7 linked regions of the Homo sapiens genome follow. The protein of the gene in region 4 purifies or fractionates together with the protein of the main gene of each other region. This does not show direct contact. Each region holds a gene or a part of one and is shown on either strand. Other genes may lie near its edges.

Region 1 (2,686 bases), on a different chromosome or scaffold from region 4:
GGCTCTCCCGCCACCAGCACAGCCACGGGGCTGCCGGCGGGCAAGCGTTCCGCTGCGGCAGCTGCGACGGCTCCTTCCCGCAGCTGGCCAGCCTCCTGGCGCATCAGCAGTGCCACGTGGAAGAGGCCGCGGCCGGGCGCCCGCCCCCGCAGGCTGAGGCTGCGGAGGTGACCTGCCCCCAGGAACCGCTGGCGCCTGCCGCCCCCGTCCCGCCGCCACCCCCGTCCGCCCCCGCTTCTGCGGAGCGGCCCTACAAATGTGCCGAGTGCGGCAAGTCCTTCAAGGGCTCCTCCGGGCTGCGCTACCACCTGCGGGACCACACGGGCGAGCGGCCCTACCAGTGTGGCGAGTGCGGCAAGGCCTTCAAGCGCTCCTCCCTGCTGGCCATCCACCAGCGGGTGCACACGGGCCTGCGGGCCTTCACCTGTGGCCAGTGCGGCCTCACCTTCAAGTGGTCGTCCCACTACCAGTACCACCTGCGGCTGCACTCTGGCGAGCGGCCCTACGCCTGCGGGGAGTGTGGCAAGGCCTTCCGCAACACGTCGTGCCTGCGTCGCCACCGCCACGTGCACACTGGCGAGAGGCCCCACGCCTGCGGTGTCTGCGGCAAGAGCTTCGCGCAGACCTCCAACCTGCGGCAGCACCAGCGCGTGCACACGGGCGAGCGGCCCTTCCGCTGCCCGCTCTGCCCCAAGACCTTCACCCACTCCTCCAACCTGCTGCTGCACCAGCGCACGCACTCGGCGGAGCGCCCCTTCACCTGCCCCATCTGCGGTCGCGGCTTCGTTATGGCCGCCTATCTGCAGCGGCACCTGAGGACGCACGCCCCGGCCAACACGCCTCCCAGCACCACAGCCCCTGCCGCCGGCCCCCAGCCCCCTGCTCCACTGGCTGCTGCGCGGGCCCCGCCAGCCACCCAAGATGTCCACGTCCTGCCCCACCTCCAGGCCACGCTCTCCCTCGAGGTGGCGGGGGGCACGGCCCAGGCCCCGAGCTTGGGGCCAGCAGCGCCCAACTCTCAGACGTTCCTCCTGGTGCAAACTGCCCAGGGCCTCCAGCTGATCCCCAGCAGCGTGCAGCCCCCTACACCTCCGCCCCCTCCCGCACCTCCCAAGCTCATCCTGCTGCCCTCCTCCAGTGCTGGGGCTGGGGGCGGCCGTGCAAGGCAGGGCCCGCGGGCAGTGGGGAAAGCGGGCCAGGGGGCGGGAGTGGTCTGGCTGCCAGGCCCTGGGGGTCTAGGGGTGCAGGGAGCGGCCAGCGCTGGGGCCAGCGGGACAGGGCAGAGCCTCATCGTTCTGCAGAATGTGGGGGGTGGGGAGGCAGGGCCACAGGAAATGAGTGGGGTGCAGCTCCAGCCCCTCCGACCAGCCCCAGAAGTAACCACGGTCCAGCTCCAGCCAGCGCAGGAGGTGACCACAGTCCAGCTCCAGCCAGCACAGGAAGTAACCACGGTCCAGCTCCAGCCAGCACAGGAGGTGACCACGGTCCAGCTCCAGCCCGTGGCCGGCCAGCTCTCCAATTCCAGTGGGGGAGCTGTGGCTACTGAGGCACCCAACCTGCTGGTTGTTCAGAGCGGGGCAGCTGAGGAGTTGCTCACTGGCCCGGGCCCCGGGGAGGCGGGGGATGGCGAGGCCAGCACTGGTGTGGTCCAGGATGTCCTCTTTGAGACACTCCAGACGGACGAGGGCTTGCAGAGCGTGCTGGTGCTGAGCGGGGCCGATGGCGAACAGACTCGACTCTGCGTACAGGAGGTAGAAACACTTCCTCCTGGGCTGACGGAGCCGCCTGCCACCGGCCCACCCGGACAGAAACTCCTCATCATCCGCAGCGCCCCAGCCACTGAGCTGCTGGACAGCAGCAACACTGGAGGAGGCACCGCCACGCTGCAGCTCCTGGCCCCACCGCCGTCAGGCCCAGCCTCGGGCCCCGCGGGGCTCCCCGGGGCTCCAGCCTCCCAGATGGTGCAAGTGGTCCCCGCAGGAGCTGGGCCTGGTGTTATGACCCCTCAGGGCCTGCCCTCCATCCAGATTGTCCAGACTCTACCCGCAGTCCAGCTGGTGCACACGTTTTGAGGAGAGGCAGTGATTCCCCTCCCGCCCCGCACAGAGACCCCGACTCACTGCCAGCCGGGGCGGGGCAGGGTGCCGCAGGCTGGGCTTGCTAATAAAGACCCGAGTCTCCCCGCCTGTGTTTTGTTTTCCTGGGGGGAGGGAAGGGGGCAAAGTCATGGTCCTAGCCCCCGCCTGGGAGCGTGGAGTCTTAAGTCTTGCGTCCTGGGTCGCAGATGGCTTGTTCTGCATCCTGGGGCCAGCCACTACGTAGGGCTCAGTTCCCCTGTCCTGAAACCAAAAAAGGCCGCAGGGGTCATTATAGTGGGGAGGTGGTGACATCAGACTCCAGGGAGTGCTACTTGTTCACTGTAGGTCGCCCCGCTGCCCCCCTCGTGTGAGAAGTAGGGGGATCCTTATGCGGAAGGGTTCTGCGACCCCGGGCGCCCCGTGGGTGGAGTGGGGTCCCTGGGGATGGGGGAGTCGGGCGCCAGGATGCTGAGCGTGGCCGGCTCCTCCCGCGAAGGCCCCGGCACGGATGAGAATCCACGCGCTGGCGTCGCCGCCCGGCGCTCAGGTTGCTCAGCAACGAGGGAACGTGGGGCGGGAGCTCGCGCTGGTCCCCAGCCCGCCGCCCG
Region 2 (3,500 bases), on a different chromosome or scaffold from region 4:
CCACAGCAAGGGGCATCAGAACAGACTGGTGCACTGTGAACCGACGAGGTGCTCCTGCTGGCCTGGCCACACTGCCTGCATCTGTGGCAGAAGCAGGTGACATGAGGACATGGTGGACCCTTGACACTCCCCTCTAGCCCTCCCACTTCCGCTCCCAGTGAAGGTGGCCTGGCAGCCAGCGTGGACCAGGTGACGGGGATATCAGGGGCCTCCTGACTTGGGGAACTCCTTTGCAGGTGGGTTGAGCCAGGTAGCCTGTGTAGAAAAAATAGTAGAGCGGACGTAACTGGTGCCTCCGCACTAAGCTACCTGAAATCTCCTTTCATATTCACAGAATTTGCTAGCCAGGAAAGCATAGAAGGGATTGTAAGTTTTCTCTTGAAGGCAGCAATCCATGAGAACGTGAATGATTTCTCTCTCCTGCTGATCCTTAAGTCCAAGCCTAGAAAACAGAACAGCAATGACTGGAACATCACTCGACTTCCAAAGTTTAATGGCTGATACCTTTCAGGGGAACATCTTCCCGCCTGGAAGGGTCTGGTTAGAGGCGAGCCACGTAAAGGAGGTGGAGGCAGCGGCAGACACCAGCTAGGGGCCCAGCCCTGTCACAACCTCTCTGGTCCTCAGGTTCTCCTACAATGTGGCAAAATGTCAGAGGAGACAAGACCATCTAGGGGGTCCCCCGTCGCTGCAAAAGTCGACAGCTGTGCCCGGCTGACAATAAACTGACTCAATCGTGTGTGCCCTTAGAGCTGGTTCCTGCTATGGCGATGACTTCACATTTTCTTACTTTTTTTTTTGAGACAGTCTTGCTCTGTCACCCAGGCTGGAGTGCAGTGGCATGACTTCAGCTCACTACAACCTCCATCTCTCCGGTTCAAGTGATTCTTGTACCTCAGCCTCCCGAGTAGCTGGATTACAGGTGCCACCACCACCCCCAGCTAATTTTTGTGTTTTTAGTAGAGATGGGGTTTTGCCATGTTGGCCAGGCTGCTCTCGAACTCCTGACCTCAGGTGTTCCACCCACCTTGGCCTCCCAAAGTGCTGGGATTACAGGCATGAGCCACGGTGCCTGCCGTCGTTTGTAAAACTTGAGTTAGAGCTCACACACAGTAAAACCTATCCTTTGTAGTGTAGAGTCCTGAGTGTGGATAAGCCCATATGGTCAGGTCACCACCGGCAATGCCGAAACAGAACTCTCCATCACCCGTGAGAACCTGGGGCCGTGAGCCACCCTTGCCGTGGGCCACTGCTAATCTGCTTCTGTCCCTCTAGTTTTGACTCTGCCTCTGTCACACAGATTCAGGGCAAGGTGGCTTCCTGCACGGCAGAATACACTCGAGAGTCACCATGCTCTTGGGGCCTTGGGAGTTTGCCCCTCGTGATGCCAAGTAGTAAGTATCCCTTAGACGGCGTCTCATGGTTTATCCTTTCCCCAACTGAGGGGTATGTGGGCTGCTTCCAGTTTCTGGTGAGATCCGAATACGGCTGAGGCTGCCACCTCTGCACAGAGGCAGACACTCTGTACCTCAGGAGAGGAGCACCAGCTCCACTGCAAACAGCACAGCCCCACGTAGAGCACTCAGGTGAAGGCAGCGCAGGCGGCGAAGGCGGCCCAAAGAACCAACTGAGTTTCAGCTGCATTGATTATCAATTCATGTTGATTAAAAGCTTAGACTCATAACTCATGATTTTGAGGAATAAGAATGGGAAAAACTATTGTTTAATACACGTAGTTTGATAGGCCAAAATTTTCAACACATGAAGTCAACCAGAGGAAAAATAAACGAAGTCCTTCGAGTACAAAGGATAAGCTAGACCCGCTGACTAGAGAATAAGAGTTCTCCTCAAAAGAGCCCTTTTAGAGACCAAGGGTGACTAGGGAGATGGGAGGTTTTCGGCAAAACGGCAAGGCCACAGAGAGGCAAAGGGAACTCAGGACTTCCACTCCAACTAGAAACTCTAGTTTAGAAAATAAAACCCTAATTATCAGAATCCTAAAAGGAACCATGTTCTCCCTGTATTTCATCCTAGTTTGAAGCAAATAAAAGAATATGTATTAACATTACATTGTTTAGAAGTACCTCATAAAACTACACAGGTACATTTAAAGATTTTTTTTTTCTTTTTAAATGAGATGGGGGTCTCAGTATGTTGCCCAGGCTGGTCTTGAACTACTGGGCTAAAGTGATCCTCCTGTCTCAGCCTTCTAAGTAGCTGGGATTACAGGATCTTTAAAATCTTATTACAACTAATTATACAAACTATACCAGGATGTTTTAAATGAAGAATCAGAATAGCTTTATTATGAAGATTTATGTATTTTTAAGCAATTCGTGACAACCAACAGCCACTGACAAGGTCATCAGATACTTTCAGTCAAAACTCCCCAGTCTCCAGCCTGAGCAACATGGCAAGACCCTGTCTCAAAAAAAAAAACCCCAAACCCCCAATCTTTATATATCATAAAATGTTCTAATGAGGAACTACTAGAGGCAAATTAATAGGAACATGACGACTAACCCAGAGATGCACGAATCCAACAGCGTGAGCGGATGGTCATGAGAACAGCCCAGTCCTCCCTAGGCAGCATCAGACTCAGTCGTCCAAAACTCAAAAAGCAAATCAACTTACTTATTTTACAGCATCTCATTAATAGGTCAAAATGTGCACACAAATGCTTACTTCAGAAGCTTTTCAAAAGCATCCAAAAAATCTTCACTTGTCATTATTGTGCAGAATATGTTTCTCCGGATGTCTGTGTTCATCCTCTGCTTCCGGGCGAGTTCTAGGATCTTTGAACTGACCTGGAAGCACGATGAATGGACAAGTCATACGCATGTCTCCATGCAAACTGCCTCCCGAGAGGTGCCAAACTGTACTTCAGTGTCACTGAATAGAACTGTGAGGTCTACGTGGGCGGATGGCACCAAGTCCACTCTCGGGCAACGCCCCTCTGTGCAAGGGGAACACATAGTGAAGCCACAGCCGCTGGGGGAGAAAACACTCATGTGGGAGGCTTCTCAGTCGTGGTTCAACCTCAGGGCAAGCGACGATGAATAAAACAGAGAACCAGTCACTGGCAGAGCCTGGGAAACCGTGACCATGAGTGACACAGAATCTGGGACAGGGAAGGACATGAGGGGATAACGAGGGAAGTCTGGATGAAAAATGGGCTTGAATTTCCACAATGTGAAATCCATAGCCTGTAGCCTAGAATGCACAGCCCGGGGGGCAGCCTGAGGGGTCTCAGCAACGGACTCCTGCCCCGTGAGCGTTCAGGTCCTCATGCGCTCCCCTGCCCCGTGCCATTCAACTTTTAGATCTTTTAAAGTCCAATAAAAAGATACAACAGAAATGGAATAATTATATCACAATGTAATATTAATAGCAATTTCTGTAAGGCCTCCAGATAAACCTTGTACATTTCAGTGACCATTCAAGAACAGTAAGAGAGCTGCTCCAGGTAAAGCCAGGACCACACACCACACAGGGGGGTG
Region 3 (3,500 bases), on a different chromosome or scaffold from region 4:
AGCACAACCCCTACCGCCCCAGCTACAGCTACGACTATGAGTTCGACCTGGGGTCCGACCGCAATGGCAGCTTTGGGGGGCAGTACAGTGAATGCCGAGACCCAGCCCGGGAGCGGGGCTCCCTTGATGGCTTCATGCGGGGCCGGGGCCAGGGCCGCTTCCAGGACCGGAGCAACCCTGGCACCTTCATGCGCAGCGACCCCTTCGTGCCCCCCGCTGCGTCCTCTGAGCCCCTGTCCACGCCCTGGAACGAGCTGAACTACGTGGGTGGACGGGGCCTGGGAGGGCCCTCCCCCAGCCGGCCACCTCCGTCCCTCTTCTCCCAGTCCATGGCTCCCGACTACGGCGTGATGGGCATGCAGGGGGCGGGCGGCTATGACAGCACCATGCCCTACGGATGTGGCCGCTCGCAGCCTCGGATGCGGGATCGGGATCGGGTAAGCCCTCGCAAGGTTCCTTCCGGCCGCCTTCGCTTCTCTTTTTAGCAGCTTTATTGAGGTAAAATTTCCCCATCTCAACATTCACTTAAATGTTTTTAAGTGCGCAGTTCGACTTTTAGTTAATTTACAGGATTGTGCAACCATCCCCACCATCACAGTCTAATCTTAGCATTTATGTCAACCAGAAGAGAAACTTCTTCTCATTAGTCACCCCTGTCTCTTCCCCGCCCCCACCAGCCCCCGACAACCACCACTGGTCTCTGGATTTGTGTGTTCTAGACATTTTGCACAAATGGAGTCGCGAAACGTGTGGCCTTTTGTTCCTGGCTTCTTTTCACTCAGCATGATTTTCTTTTTAGTTTCAAATTATGTTGTCTCTTTGCTTTTTGAAAAGACCTTTTGTGCCTGTGTTGTCTGATCCTACAACCTCCTTGTTCTTTTCTGTGGGGCATCTTCATGGCCCTCGTAAGTAGCTCATGGGGTGTGCTTGTTGTCTGTAGCCCAAGAGGAGAGGGTTTGACCGCTTCGGACCAGATGGCACGGGCAGGAAACGGAAGCAGTTCCAACTTTACGAGGAGCCAGACACCAAACTGGCCCGGGTTGACAGTGAAGGAGATTTCTCCGAAAATGGTATGTCCTGGGGGCCAGGTGGGCCAGACAGATGTAGGATGGGTCGGCTGCCTGCTGGGGGCTCTGCTTGCCCCATCTGTGTCGTGGACACTCGCAGGTGGCATGTTTCAACCCCACTGTGGTCAGGGCAGACTCACCCTGGATGGCGAGCTTGGGAGGGCGGAAACCGGATGGGACCGTTCTCCGGGGACTGACTTTTCCTTTCTTTGTGTCTGGCAGATGACGCAGCTGGTGACTTCCGCTCAGGAGATGAAGAATTCAAGGGTGTAAGTCCACCAGGCAGCCCTTTTGCCTCTAGTGTGGGATTTCTTCTTTCTTTAATCACCCTTCCTCACAAAGGGGCAGGAGCAGCTGCCATGGTAGATTTGACTACCTCTGAGTGGATTCAGGACCCTGACTTTTAGCTAGATTTCTAAAAGTTTTCCACCTTAGCCGGCACGGTGGCTCACACCTGTAATCCTAGCACTTAGGGAGGCTCAGGTGGGTGGATCACTTGAGGTCGAGAGTTGGAGACCAGCCTGGCCAACATGGTGAAACCCCGTCTCGATTAAAAATACAAAAATTAGCCAGGAGTGGTGGCACTTGCCTGTAGTAGCAGCTACTTGGGAGGCTGAGGGAGGAGGATCACTTGAACCTGGGAGGTGGAGGTTGCAGTGAGCTGACGTTGCATCACTGCACCCCAGCCTGGGCGACAGAGGGAGACTCCGTCTCAAAAAAAAAAAAAAAGTTTTCAACTTACAACAAACATTCCTTTTCTGAAAAAAGCTCCCAGTTCCTCTCCCTGGTCTCTAGGCCAGTAAGTGCAGGGACTGTGGGCTGAAGCCTCCAAGCACAGGCTGGAGGCTCATTTGCCGCCAGCTCCGTGCCGGGTGCCGCTGACTGGTGTCCTCATCCTTCCATCCTCACAACAAGGCACAGGCAGGCAGCACGTGGGGCCAGTTCATAGCCGGGACCACCCCAAGCTCTTGGGGAGGTGCCTCAGCCACCCCAGTGTAGATTCTGATCCAAGTTGGAGGTGTAGGGCCTGGAGGTCCAGAGTGGGAAGGAGGGCCTTCCCCAAGTCCTTAGAGTCACACAGGCAGGGAACAGGCAGGAGATGGTGGCTTTTCAGGTTTTCAGAGTCTCACTTGATCCCTATTTTGCTGGTCTTGAGATTAGGAATCTCTGTAAACCTGCTGATTGTTAATTTAGCCGTATGTTCACTGCCTAAGGAGTCAGCTCTGTTCAGATTCTCAGTTGAATCGTTTTTATCTATACGTGATTGTTATTAAGACATCGGGTAAATATAGGCCTGGCGCGGTGGCTCACACCTGTAATCCCAGCACTTTGGGAGGCCAAGGCGGGTGGATCACGAGGTCACAAGATTGAGACCATCCTGGCCAATATGGTGAAACCCCGTCTCTACTGAAAATACAAAAATTAGCTGGATGTGGCGGCATGCGCCTATAGTCCCAGCTACTCGGGAGGCTGAGGCAGAGGATTTGCTTCAACCCAGGAAGCAGAGGTTGCAGTGAGCTGAGATTGCATCATTGCACTCCAGCCTGGGAGACAGGGCGAGACTCCGTCTCAAAAAAAAAAAAAAAAAAAAAAAAGACATTGGGTAAATATAAACAAAAGCTCGGGAAACGTGGTGGAACCCATTTTCTATGAAGAATGCCAGAACTGGCATCCCCCAAGTGAGACTCTATCTCCCTACGGTTGGTGAACAGGCTCCATTCATAGAATTGTACGGGTGGGTCTTTGTCATGGGGCAGGCAGTTCTGCAGCTTAGGAGGAACCGAGAGAGGGTGGGTGAATGGCTTTTTAGCAAGGTGATTGTCACAGAATCTCTGAAGGCAACTAGGAGTAATAACAGGACACACAGGCCCTGTCCTGAGCCCCGGAGGCTGGTCCTAACACACTGTGGCTCATTCTTGGTGGCATAGCAACCTAGGTCTTGGGTGAGACTGCCCACCAGGCAGTGGCCAGGGACTGGGCTGGTTGTGGAGAGTCTGGACACACCAGCTCACTGCCGGACTTTGTGTATACTCTTTTCCAGGAGGATGAACTCTGCGACTCTGGGAGGCAAAGAGGTAGGCATCACCGTGTCCCTTGCAGCTTTCCTGTGTCTTCCCAGCTGCCCCGCACTTACTGCCCAGCTTCTGAGCAAGCCAGGGGCCTGGATGGAGGGGCCCGTGGCTGTGGGGGAAGAGGGGCTGCAGCCACCAGATGGGCCTTGACCGTGGCGATCAGCCAACACTTTGCTTCAAAGTGTCTGGGGCAGCATTTACTGGAAACGGGTCTGTCTGCCTGACCCGATGTGGGCTGCAGTGGGGATGGGGGGCAGCCTTGGGTGTCCACCACAGTCGAAGTTTGTAGGGAAGGAGAAACATGAGAGAAGAGGCCCCCAGCCCATCTTCTGTGCCCTCCTCGGCCAGTGCATTTCCCTGA
Region 4 (3,500 bases):
GCTGTAATGAGCTGTTGTACGCAAGGTCCATGTAGCTGTAGAAACCAGGAATCAGGAAAGTGATATTCTAGAAAACAAAGCAGGGACATTTCAGAACCTGGAGGATCCACGCTGACCCACTGGACCGTCCCCCTGGGGGAGGAATGAACACAAGGAGAGCCAGTCCCTGAGGGTTCACCCTTAAGGTCAGGAAAGGCCTCGGGCCAAATGCCCTTCGACGCACCTGAAGCCCCTCAGATGCTCAACATGTGATCTGTGATTTTCCCCTTAAGAAAAAGGTAAAAACATACTCTGCGGCAAGTTACAGTGACATCGACACATCTTTGGAGCAGACATCTGGCCTTTGGCCCCATGTTTAGATGGATCTGGGAGCCTGTGTTTGCAAGCCTCACCTCACGCGGCTCACTGGTGGCCGGAACAGTGACATGCACCCAGGACAGAAGGACTGTGGGGCCTTCCTCCCAGGCCAGGAGCTGCTCTGACAGATGCTTCCTCTGAACCTGTGTGTGGCCCCCTCACCGGGACACTGCCCATAGCTGTAATGCCAGAACCCGCTCTAACCTCACAGAGGGCACAAGTGTCCATGCCCCCAAAATCCCTGCAAGGTCTCAATGCCCTCAGCTCCTGTGGGAACCCCTCATCCAGGAAGAACACTAACTGCTTTTTAACTAACTTAAATTTAACGTAACTACAATTCAGCTTAGCTACTTTTTAGTATTTCTACTAGGGTGAGAAATGAACCCCCGCAGTTGTGTCGTAAACCCTGGTCCATCAGTCAGACCAGATCTCTCAGGGCTTCGAAGCACAGTGCTCCTCTCCCTCCGACGGTGGTTGCTGGGGAAGGGTGGAGAGGAAGGAGCTTGGCAGCCATGAGCAGGGACCTCCCTCCCTGGACCCAAGGTCCTTCCTGGGTAAAGGAGCGAGCTGGAGAGCTTGCCGGGTGCGAGGCCTGTGCCACACGCAAGCCCGCACTGCAGAGCACAGCAGCTTCCTCCCAGGGAACGGGAGCCAGGCGCCCAGGGCAGCCCCACCTTGCCCAGGAGCTCCGTCTTTCCGTAACCAAACAGTGTCAGCGCGAAGCTGTGGTTGATGCCGTGGATGGTCCCATCCGGCAGGAGGGTGATGAGGCCACTGATGGTGCAGAACACCCAGACAGATGCCCGGTAGCCGCTCACAGGGGCCGCCTCACCGGTGGTCGCCTCCTCGCTGCTGGGTTGGGATTTCAGCTTTAAGCTCAGAGGGAAGGTGGTACCGTCCCTGGCTCTTCCAACAGACCTCTGAATCTTGAGATTCTGAAAGAAAGGCTTGTCGTTTGGCTTAAGCCGTGTTTCACGTGGACAGAGCACTGAGTCTGTGCTGCGTCCGACCCGACTTCTACCCCACGTCATCGGGGAAGGTCCCCAGGACATCTCACACCCACACTGCTCTGCCTTCCCTCTCCTCCCAGGCCCAGCTGGCCCAGGAAAGAGCCCTTCTGTGGGTGGGGAGGACTCAGTGTCCAGAGCCGCCCCAGGCACAGCAACCCCAGGGCAAGTGAGACACCCCAGTGAGGGGCCGGGCACCAGCAGGGAGGGAGGGAGGGAGGACTGTGGGGCTCAGGCTCGGGGCTCAGCCACGCCACTGGCAACTGTGCCATCCTTGATCTGGCACCAGGATACTGGCCCCACAGGCAGCACTACACCAGCTGCGCAGCTGTGGATGTTACCTCCCACCCCTCAGCCTTGGGCAGCGTCCCAGCATCCACCTCTGTGGGTGGCCCAGCTCCTGGGAGAAGACTCAGGGGACAAGAGTGGTCAGCTGGGAGACCACATAGGCTCCGGCCCTTGGTCAAGGCCTCAGCGCACAGGAAGCTCAAAACTGAGCATGTCCCACCCCTAAGGCCACCCTTGCCTTCAGAAACCCTTGGTCTGCGTCTCCAGTTATGGATTCAGAGCTAAGAACTCCACCCCATCACACAGTGCGGGAGGTCAGGAGCCCTACCTTTGGGATGTGCTGGCCAGAAGGAGGGAGCTGCACAGAAGGGATCAGGTCTGTGATATGCTGCCCAGCCACGTCCTCCCCAGACACGTACCCGTGAAGATGAGCAAAGAGACTGTCACATGACGTGACGGTGCCCTGGAGGAAAAGCCCCGTGCTTATCATAAAAGCTTCTTGTGCTCCAGCTGTAAATTTAACTAAGCTTCAATATGTTCAAGCCAAAAGCAAGACCCCAACATGACTTCTCCATCGGAAGGGCAAGAGACATATACACATGAATTTGATAAGAGCTTCATCATCTGTCTCCTTCTACCAGAGACGTACCTAAATTGTGGGCCTTCTTGTTCTTCAGGAGCCTGGCCCACACCACAGCTCATTAATAACATCCCAGTTCACATATGAGGGCTGTCTCTAATGCCAGCTACTATCCTGGGGGGTTTACATATATTATCTCATTTAAATGTTGAAACAATCTTATGAGGAGTTATGATTATGCCCCAGTTCACAGGTGAGGAACTGAAGTATAGGAAGTTCGTTCCCTGCCCAAGCACACGCAATCAGCGAGGGTACCACTGGGCAGACCCTCCAGGCTCCTCATCCTCTCTTTCTTCCCAAAGGAATGAGACAGGGACCAGCACTTGCTGAAGAGGAGAACGACGCCGGCTCCAGCGTCCATGAGACATGAGGCAAAGTTGCACACTCACATCGCTCTGGAAAGCGACCCAGGTCGAGACCCTCTCCACGGGCTCCAGGACCACCACGCAGCATAGGCGGCGCTCCTGCCGCATCCTCTTCATCCACACAGACACTGGAATCTTCTCCCCACTACGGCTGATGATGTCCACCTGTGGAAACAGACAGGTTCACACCTGCATGCCATGAACCCAAAAGACCAGTATGGGTGGGGCACCTGCCTCCAGGAGGCCCAAACTCCAGGCACTGCAACGTTTTCAACTTCTGCTTACCTGATTTTCATTTCAGAAATTTACCAAAGCACAAACAAGATTTCCCATACTGAACATTAAAATCTCCAAGTGCAAGTTTTATCAAGAGAGTAGATTTCATTCTCAGTTCATGGTAATATTGCAGGGTGAAAAAAGCAGTATCTGTTATTTCTTAAAGAAACAGACACCAACACATGGTGAATATCTTAGTTTTTTTCTTCTTAGTAGTCAGTTTCTTGAACCAGTGATTTTCTGATACAATTGGTCCTAAGCCTGTGACATCAGTTCAGTTCAAGCAATGGGGTCTTCTGTGTGAAAGCCACACACTAGGTGGGAAACAGGCAACCTGGAGGATCTGGATGACTACTAGAGCCTCAGATCATACCCCAACCTCCACTGCCCTCCAACGCTACTCCCCCAGTCCCCGACCGGCTGACGAGGGGAAACCCTACAATCAGCCATGCCTTGGGCTTTTTCCATGCCTTGGGCTCAGTCCTCCACATCCAACTCAGCTCACCTGTCAACATCCAGGTTGGACACATGGCACAGGTGAGAGAATCAACACTGTCTAGGGAAATG
Region 5 (2,667 bases), about 130 Mb from region 4:
ACAGCACCAGCCTTGTCTGATGGTAGCTGAGGACAACAAGGGAGGCGGAGCACCCAGGGAGGGACAAGAGTCGGGGGCATCACTACCCCTGGCTTGTGAGGTACAGGAAGTGAGGGGGCTTATCAGAGCCTGAAAGATTGTGGCTCTGATCAAGGACACAGCCTCCATCAGAACCACATCCAGGCAGGTCAGGACTCCTCAGGCTGGGTCACTGTCATTTGCCAACCCCAGCTAAAAACCAGTCAGCCTCTCAGGTGCAGAGAGTGGGTTGGGGGGCAGCGGCGCAGATGGAAAATAACTGGCTCAGGTTTCACCCCAGTGCTGAATCCTGTCCATCAGCAGTGGTTTCCTGGAGGGCCGGGTTGAGGTTTCTGAGGCTGATTCCTGGCAGAGTGGGAAAGAACATCTTAAGTTGACAAGGAATGTCTGCAGCAGGGATGGGAGGCACCTAAGAGATTAGGAAGGATGTGTGCAGAGTGGGTTGGTTGTAGAACAGAGAGGCTGAGAACCCTCGCAACAGTCACCATCATCACTACAGGACAAGTCCCAGGGACACTGGGTGCCTAACAGGAAGCCTCCTGTGTTTCCCCACCTCCACTTAGGGAAAATACAGATGTCAGTTGATGTAGACATGCTGAATCTCCACATGAGCTGAGTCAGAGCACACATCTCAGGCCTGAAGCCCAAGTGGGATCATCCTGACCCTTGGCCCTTAAACCACCATGCTGCAGTGGGCCTTTCGGGGGGCTGGTTCTGCTCCTGCAGGCATACCTCACACTAGGAGGGTGGACAGGCCCACCTCCCCAGCTGGACTTCCCCCATGGAAACAGGACACAGAGGGGAGCCCCGCTGGCTCCAGATAACAGCTCTGACCCACCAAGGGAGAACGGGAGAAGAGAGGGCAGAGGGCTCCTCCATGGGCTGACGTGGGAATGTGAGGGGAGAGGTGGCTCCCCGGTGACATCCCATTGGGGCCCCGCTGCAGGGCTCTGAGGAGTGGGTGACCTGGGGCTGGAGCAGGAGAAGGCATCCAGATAGCCACCCACACTCCCTCCCTCCCACAGTGCTCACGAAGGCCCACCTGGGGTTGCTTGGGGTTGGGAGGGACGGCCTCCAGCTGGGGAGACTCTCTGGATGTCTGCAAAGGGAGCAGAGAACTCATACAAATCATGATATTGAGGTGTCTGCACTCGCATGGGGTGAGGCTGGCAGGGAAGACTTTCTAGAAGATTCTAATTTAAAAAAAGTGTGTGTATATATAGTATATATAGGTATATGGTATATATATGCTGTATATGGTGTATATATGGTATATATATGAATATGGTATATGTATATATATGTATATGGTATATATATATACACACACCATATATACCATATATACGTATATATGGTGTGTGTATATATATACCATATATACATATATATATATACCATATACATATATATACACACACACATATATATATATGAAGAATAACAGCCATGGAGGGTAATGGGGCACTTGGGCTGAGAAGCAGACAGGTCTAAGAGAAGCATTGTGACCAGTAACACTCACCTGGTGCTTTCCACCATCCTTGCCACCTGTCATACCCCAGGGAAAGAGGACAGGATCCCAGGGAGGGGCACTCCCTGGCATTTCCTCAGGGCCCTGATTCCACACAGTTAAGGAAGGCAGGCTTTCTGCTTTAAGAATAAGTGCCAGGAGCAGGGAGCACCACATTACAGGACCTGCAGGGCCTCTCATGTGGTTCTGTCTGCAATGGAGGGAAGGTCAGGGCGATTCTCACCTGTTGTATGTCCTGTATCTCAGATGTGGATGAATGTGTGGGCCTGCAGCCGGTGTGCCCCCAGGGGACCACATGCATCAACACCGGTGGAAGCTTCCAGTGTGTCAGCCCTGAGTGCCCCGAGGGCAGCGGCAATGTGAGCTACGTGAAGACGTCTCCATTGTGAGTATCTCCAGGGGAGGCACACCCTCACCCAGGCCTCCAAGTGTGGCTGGGCTGGATGCTTCCTAGAGGTTCTTGGGAGAAGGTACAGTTATACCATAGAAAGATGAGAGGCAGGAGGCTGGGAGGCTGGTGTCTCTGAATTTCCATTTCCGCTTAGTGGTTGCATTTAATGCGTTGCTGCTCTGGAGAAATAAGAACCCCATTCCCCATGGGAGTAATATACTAAGTGCACCCCCACTACATAGAGGTTGATGGGGTTGCTGCCACCCCAGGATGGCAAAGCCAGGGCAGGCACTGAAGGGAAGAAGCTGTTGGTGACATTACCCTGATAAACCCATAGCAGCCCAGGAGACAGGTATAGATCACATGGATTTGGGAGGTGACAGCATTCACATAGCCAGGAACTATAGACTCCCTTGAGTTACACTGCATATCCCGTGCACCCTGCATTATATCACTCTGCTTTTCCAATAGTACTAGAAGGTTCTACATCTAGTAACTGCAACTCTTAAACAGCAAGTAGAGCTTTTTTTTTTTTTTTTAAAGTTGGGAGATGGGCCTTTAAGGGGAATGACTACAACTATCACAAAGCACATACATTTTCCTCTCAAAAAGAGATCACAAGAGCCCTAGCGTTGTCTTTAAAATGAAGTAACAGCCATGGAGGGTAACTTAATTATTTGAATTGCTGTTGAGTTAAAGCAGATTA
Region 6 (3,500 bases), on a different chromosome or scaffold from region 4:
ATAAAATGCAAGCTCCCATGAGGCCTACATAGTCTGGCTCCGCTTATGTCTCTGACATCCATCCTACCATTCTCTGCCTCTCTCACTTTATGGCTTCACTTGCCTTCCTGTTGCTCTCCAAGCAAGCTATGCTTGTTCCTACCTCAGGTCTTTGCACTTAGGGTTCCCTCCGTATGGTACACTATTCCTCACGATCTCTGCATGGCTTGCACCTCATGTCTCTTAGGTCTCTACTCAAATGTTATCTCCTCTGAGAGACCTCCCTGACTAACTCTAATCTAAAACACTTGGCCAGTTGCCCTATATCCCACCTTATCCTGCCATCATTATATTCCTCCATGCTGCTTTAGGTTTTTCTTCATGGCATTTATTCCTAACTGACATTAATGTTACCTATTTACTTGTGAATTTCTTACCTCCCTGACTAGAACATAAACTTCATGATAACATCAGTATATCCCAGCACTTCGTATATGCTGTCTGAAAGAAGCTACTTACCGTTGTCAAAACACGCATAATTGTGTCTATATGCCATCGTTTGGAAGGTGCATACCTGAAAAAAACAATGGAAAGGGACACTTGGAACCAGTAAAATATACCGTTTTCAGTGACTAGAAAATCCTGCCCAAGCAGGGTGACTCACACCTGTCATCCCAACATCTTGGGAGGCCGAGGTGGGAGATCACCTGAGCTCAGGAGTTCGAGACCAGCCTGGGCAACACGGTGAAACTCCATCTCACCAAAAAATACAAAAATTAGCTGGGTGTGGTGGTGGGTGCCTGTAGTTCAGCTACTCTGGGAGGTTGAGGTAGGAGGATTGCCTGAGCCTAGGAGGTTGAGGCTACAGTGAGAAAGAAGAGAGAGAAAAGAAAGAGAAGAAACAGAAGAAAGAAAAGAAAGGGAAGAAAGAGAAGAGAAGAAAGAAAAGAAAGAAGGAAAGAAGATGGAAGGAAAGAAGGAAGGAAGGAAGGAAGGAACAAAAAAGAGAGAGAAAGAAAAGAAAGAAAAAGAAAGAAAGAAAGAAAGGAAGGAAAGGAAAAGAAAGGAAAAGAAAAGAGAAGAAAATCCTGTCCTACAGTCTTTTCTAGGTTCCCTGGATAAGTGAACATATCTGGAAACATTTCAACTTCAAATCTAGCAGCAAATGCCATTTCAAAGAGTGATAAAAAGGTATACAGTCAACTGACTTCAGTGGCTCATGCCTATAATCCCAGTACTTTGGGACGCCAAGGAGGAAGGAGTGCTTGAGGCCAGGAGTTCCACACAAACCTGGGTAACATAGCAAGACCCCATCTCTACAAAATAAAAATTAAAAAATTAGTGGCACATGATGATTTGCAGCTACAGTCCCAGCTACTCAGGAGGCTGAGGCAGAAGGATGGCTTAAGCCCAGAAGTCCAGGCTGCAGTAAGCTATGACTGGGCCACTGCCCTCCAGCCTGGGTGACAGAGCAAGACTCCGTTTCTAAAATTAAAGAAAAAAAAAAAAGAGGGTACATAGTCAAACTCAGATGTTTCCCATAAGATTGCAATAAGAGTTGCTAAGCTGAGAAATGAGATTTGTTTTCAGTTTCAGAGAAAATGAATCATTCAGTCAGGGCAGGAGACGATAAAGAAGAAAGAAGAAAAGGGACTGTTTTCAGACCAAGACAACATTTGGACTAAAAACTTGTTTCCTTAAATTCAGAGTGGAAAGAAGAGAAAGAATAGCTGTACTACTAAAATCATAAGGTACTTCCTCAAAATTCTGCATAGAGCTGCAATTCAGGTGCTGTAACTGTTCTATTGCCTTTATTAAAACAGCATCACAGGCCAGGTGTGGTGGCTGATGCCTGTAATCCTAGCACTTTGGGAGGCTGAGGCAGGCGAATCGCTTGAGTCCAGGAGTTCGAGACCAGCCTGGACAACATAGCGAAACCCCATCTCTACAAAAAGAAAAAAACAAACCCAGAAATTAGCAGGGTGTGGTGGCGTAAGCCTATGGTCCCAGCTACTTGGGGGGCTGAGGCAGGAGGATCCCCTGAACCTGGGAGGTCAAGGTTGCACTGAGCCGAGACTGTGCCACTGCACTCCAGCCTAGGTGACAAAGTGAGACCCTGTCTCAAAAAAACCCAAAACAAAAAAAACCAGCATCATAGATGAGAGGTTAAAGAACAGATAAAGGAGAAGATTTCATAAAAGTGTGAAATTTTTTTGGTCTCAGCATATTTAAATGCTGGCTATAATAGCCTTCTCCAAGCTAATTTATAATTGAGGGTTTGAAATAAATGTTATGTGTTTTAAACATATTTAAAGTAGTTTCCCCATTTTTTTTTTTTTGTTTTGTTTTTGAGATGGAGTCTTGCTCTGTCACCTAGGCTGGAGTGCAGTGGCATAACCTTGGCTCACTGCAACCTCCACCTCCCAGGTTCAAGTGATTCTCCTGCCTCAGCCTGCCGAGTAGCTGGGACTACAGGCGCGTGCCACCAGGCCCAACAAATTTTTGTATTTTTAGTGGCGACAGGGTTTCACTATGTTGGCCAGGCTGGTCTCGAACTCCTGACTTCATGATCCACCTGCCTTGGCCTCCCAAACTGCTGAGACTGCAGGCGTGTGCCACCGCGCCCAGCCCCCTCCCCATGTTTTAAAGACACTTCCAAAAGTTCCAAGCAGACTTTACCAATAAAGGTAAAAATTAAATCTTACTTTTCTGCAGCAAGAAAGATTCCAGATGCACAGTCTGCTTTAAATTCTGGCTCACACGAATCCAGAAAATAAAGTAATTCTTTCATCATGCCTCGGATATTATTCCCATTTACCAGGGCAAAACTCAATTCCATTGCACGCCTTGCAGAAGGGAAAAATTAAAAACAGTTAAGAAATTTATAGTGGAAATGAAACAAAGACCCAGGTATGCACTCTGTGAACACCAAGTACTGCCAGATGTGCTGACGTCCTTGCACGATCTTGTGATCCCAATCTTTGCACACGAAATAACCAAGGAGATGTATTCTTACATAATCAAAGTTAGTTTTGATATTTTGAATCTTCATGCAATATTCTTCTTCAAAAGTCCCTACGAGATATACCACTAATGTCCAAACATGCAGCTTGGGTTCAACAGGCTGTTCTACAAAGGTGGAAGTTAGAATACCTGAGAGTCTCAAAAAGAGGGGCAACAAATAAATGTATTACCCAATAATAATACCTATCTGCCTCATTCCTTAAAAATGTGACATGTTAAGTCACCATATTCTACTTTTATTACACCCCACTCTGTCCAAACATGATGTAATATAGTTTATGTCAAAAGGTATGCAGAAAATTCAAATTAAAAACAAATTCAAGGCCGAGCGTGGTGGCTCACACCTGTTTTCTCACCACTTTGGGAGGCCAAGGCAGGCGAATCACCTGAGGTCAGGAGTTTGAGACCAGCATGGCCAACATGGTGAAAGCACTTCTGTACTAAAAATACAAAAATTAGCCGGGCATGGTGGTGGGCGCCTGTAGTCCCAGGTACTA
Region 7 (2,179 bases), on a different chromosome or scaffold from region 4:
GCTTCAGGCTGGCCACAGGCAGGTCCTGAACCTGCGTGGGGAGCTGGAGCAACTCAAGGCTGGTGTGGCCAAGGTGGCCAGTGGGCTGAGCCGCTGCCAGGACACAGCCCAGAAACTTCAGCACACAGTGGGACACTTTGACCAGCGGGTGGCACAAGTGGAGGGTGCGTGCAGGAGGCTGGGCCTGCTGGCCGCGGGCCTGGACAGCTTGCCCACTGAGCCACTGAGGCCCAGAGAGGGCCTGTGGAGCCATGTGGACCAGCTGAATCGTACGCTGGCCCAGCACACGCAGGACATTGCCCGCCTCCGGGATGACCTACTGGACTGCCAGGCCCAGCTGGCTGAGCAGGTGCGGCCAGGGCAAGCCAACTAGACAGGCTGGCCAGGACCCAACCCCTAGATCCCACCAACTCGGGGAACATCACCCCAGAGCCCAGCCTTATCCAGCAGCGCCTTCCAGCCTTCCCTGGCTAGCCCAAATGGCACTAAGGAGGCCACTGAGGGAATCCTCCACGTGGCTGTCCCAGCCACCAAAACCCATGCACAGTGCTGCAGAAACTGGACAGTTCCGGACAGCGGTCAAGGCAAGGATGTCATGCTTGAAGGCCAGGGTAGACTTGAGAGAGTTCACATTCCACTGTCAGCAAATCAGTGTCTGGACAGCCAGCTGCAGGGCCTGAGCATGGCTGGCAGGGGCAGCTGCTGTGGCAAACTGGCCTTGATCAGTGTCCGTATGTAAGGCCTTGAGAGGACCCTGCAGGCAGTCAGCACCAGCCTCAGCAACTGTGCAGAGACCTACAGGCCCACAGCCAGTGGCCTGTCCGCATTGCCCTGTGCCCACAAGCAACAGTCCACAGCCCTTGGTGGCTTCTGTTCCTTGTCCCCTCGGCTTCTCTTCGCAGCCATCAGGACTAGGTTTGTGCAGGAAGGTGATGCCCACTGGAACTCTCCTCACACCTGGCAGCTTCATGGATGTTGTATCTGAACTAAGGACCAGAGGCTGCCAGATGTTTCTGGCTCCTCACGTGTCCTTCAGGACAGAACAGAAGCACAAAGACTCAGCCAAGAGTTCTCTTTATTCCCTTTGATCCTCCCCCAAGGTGAGGGCTTAGGCAGCTGTAGAACCCCAGGAAAGAACGGAATCCAGGCAATCTGTTTAGAGACCCCCCACTCCAAATTTATCCTTTTCCTTTCCTTCCCCTAAGATGTTTCCAGGGCCCTCTGGTGCCCACACTGTCCTCTTCCTTCCACTTGGGGGTGGGGAAATCCTTCCTGCGAGGTCAGGGCATTTCTCTACAAAGTGGCCTGAATGAGGCCAGGCCCTGAGAAGGAGCCACCAGCTGGAGGAAAGGGGCTCCAAGCCTTGCTTTTAACACCCCTGCAAAACCCCCACCCTCCCAAGATGTTCACAAAAGGTGAGAAATTCAGGTACGAAACCATCAATGGACAACTTGAAAATGCATGTTCCTCAGGCCTATGCAGTTCCCAGAGACTCTTGACACCGGTCTCTGCTGAGGCTCCCAGCCTCAGTTTCCCCCACAGCAGCACGGGCCCCACTGTGCTGCTCTTCAGGTCCCCACAGCCCTGCCTTTGGTTCCTGGACATTTGGTATTCTGCCCTCCACTCTGGTACTATCAGAGTAGGGCAGGCTCTGGATTAAAGCTTTTAGCCGGTCTAAAGCTACTTTCTTCAAAGACAGTGGGAGGAGAGGTTGCTGGGGCATCAGCCCTGCTTCCCACAGCTCCTTAGGCAAGAGCTTACCCAGCAGCTGTGAGCACCAAGCTGGCCAGCAGAGGCTGGGGGAGGACTTTCAGGCCAACACCTGCCCCAGCTGAGTTTGGGACTGTCCTTAAGCGAGGTCTGGAGAGAGGCAGCGGCAGCAGCCGGACGGGGAGCAGGCCAAGCCGGAACCACAGCCTGCAGGTGTGGGTGTGTGTCATGTGCTGAGATGCCAGGGCACCAGCAAGGGGGATATGTTGGCAGTGATGTCTGGCTTCGGAGGGTACAGTCCTGGCTCCCAGACAAGGGGCGGGGAGAACACTGTGTCCTTCCAGAGGCTGTACCACACTCCCACTGCTGTCACCCTTCACTGAAGCCTCGAGCCTCGGTAGGGCCTCCCTCTTCTCCCTGTCCTATCAAGACTTACAGCAAGGTCCCAGGTTGACAGGGAGACAGATAT

Evidence for each region.
Region 1: the proteins of PASK (region 4) and ZNF628 purify together in Homo sapiens (affinity purification with mass spectrometry, with the first as the bait; one large-scale study listed by BioGRID). This does not show direct contact.
Region 2: the proteins of PASK (region 4) and NOM1 purify together in Homo sapiens (affinity purification with mass spectrometry, with the first as the bait; one large-scale study listed by BioGRID). This does not show direct contact.
Region 3: the proteins of PASK (region 4) and AKAP8 purify together in Homo sapiens (affinity purification with mass spectrometry; one large-scale study listed by BioGRID and IntAct). This does not show direct contact.
Region 5: the proteins of PASK (region 4) and FBLN7 purify together in Homo sapiens (co-immunoprecipitation; one large-scale study listed by IntAct). This does not show direct contact.
Region 6: the proteins of PASK (region 4) and AP1G1 purify together in Homo sapiens (affinity purification with mass spectrometry, with the first as the bait; one large-scale study listed by BioGRID). This does not show direct contact.
Region 7: the proteins of PASK (region 4) and EMILIN3 purify together in Homo sapiens (affinity purification with mass spectrometry; 2 studies listed by BioGRID and IntAct, with this or other methods). This does not show direct contact.

What each region holds. Positions count from the first base shown.
Region 1 is NC_000019.10:55,482,302-55,484,987, forward strand, and holds the end of ZNF628 (zinc finger protein 628), read left to right. Parts: coding exon 1-2,072; 3' UTR 2,073-2,186; downstream 2,187-2,686. UniProt on the Homo sapiens protein: Transcriptional activator. Binds DNA on GT-box consensus sequence 5'-TTGGTT-3'. Plays a role in spermiogenesis.
Region 2 is NC_000007.14:156,963,212-156,966,711, reverse strand, and holds part of NOM1 (nucleolar MIF4G domain-containing protein 1), read right to left. Parts: intron 2,808-3,500; coding exon 2,686-2,807; exon of another isoform or gene 2,524-2,685; intron 443-2,523; coding exon 310-442; intron 1-309. UniProt on the Homo sapiens protein: Plays a role in targeting PPP1CA to the nucleolus.
Region 3 is NC_000019.10:15,369,788-15,373,287, reverse strand, and holds part of AKAP8 (A-kinase anchor protein 8), read left to right. Parts: coding exon 1-437; intron 438-940; coding exon 941-1,070; intron 1,071-1,289; coding exon 1,290-1,336; intron 1,337-3,108; coding exon 3,109-3,142; intron 3,143-3,500. UniProt on the Homo sapiens protein: Anchoring protein that mediates the subcellular compartmentation of cAMP-dependent protein kinase (PKA type II).
Region 4 is NC_000002.12:241,135,973-241,139,472, forward strand, and holds part of PASK (PAS domain-containing serine/threonine-protein kinase), read right to left. Parts: intron 2,823-3,500; coding exon 2,682-2,822; intron 2,116-2,681; coding exon 1,981-2,115; intron 1,293-1,980; coding exon 1,032-1,292; intron 68-1,031; coding exon 1-67. UniProt on the Homo sapiens protein: Serine/threonine-protein kinase involved in energy homeostasis and protein translation. Phosphorylates EEF1A1, GYS1, PDX1 and RPS6.
Region 5 is NC_000002.12:112,183,385-112,186,051, forward strand, and holds part of FBLN7 (fibulin-7 isoform 1 precursor), read left to right. Parts: intron 1-1,816; coding exon 1,817-1,955; intron 1,956-2,667. UniProt on the Homo sapiens protein: An adhesion molecule that interacts with extracellular matrix molecules in developing teeth and may play important roles in differentiation and maintenance of odontoblasts as well as in dentin formation.
Region 6 is NC_000016.10:71,753,335-71,756,834, forward strand, and holds part of AP1G1 (AP-1 complex subunit gamma-1), read right to left. Parts: intron 2,826-3,500; coding exon 2,685-2,825; intron 554-2,684; coding exon 499-553; intron 1-498. UniProt on the Homo sapiens protein: Subunit of clathrin-associated adaptor protein complex 1 that plays a role in protein sorting in the late-Golgi/trans-Golgi network (TGN) and/or endosomes.
Region 7 is NC_000020.11:41,359,462-41,361,640, reverse strand, and holds the end of EMILIN3 (EMILIN-3 precursor), read left to right. Parts: coding exon 1-373; 3' UTR 374-1,679; downstream 1,680-2,179.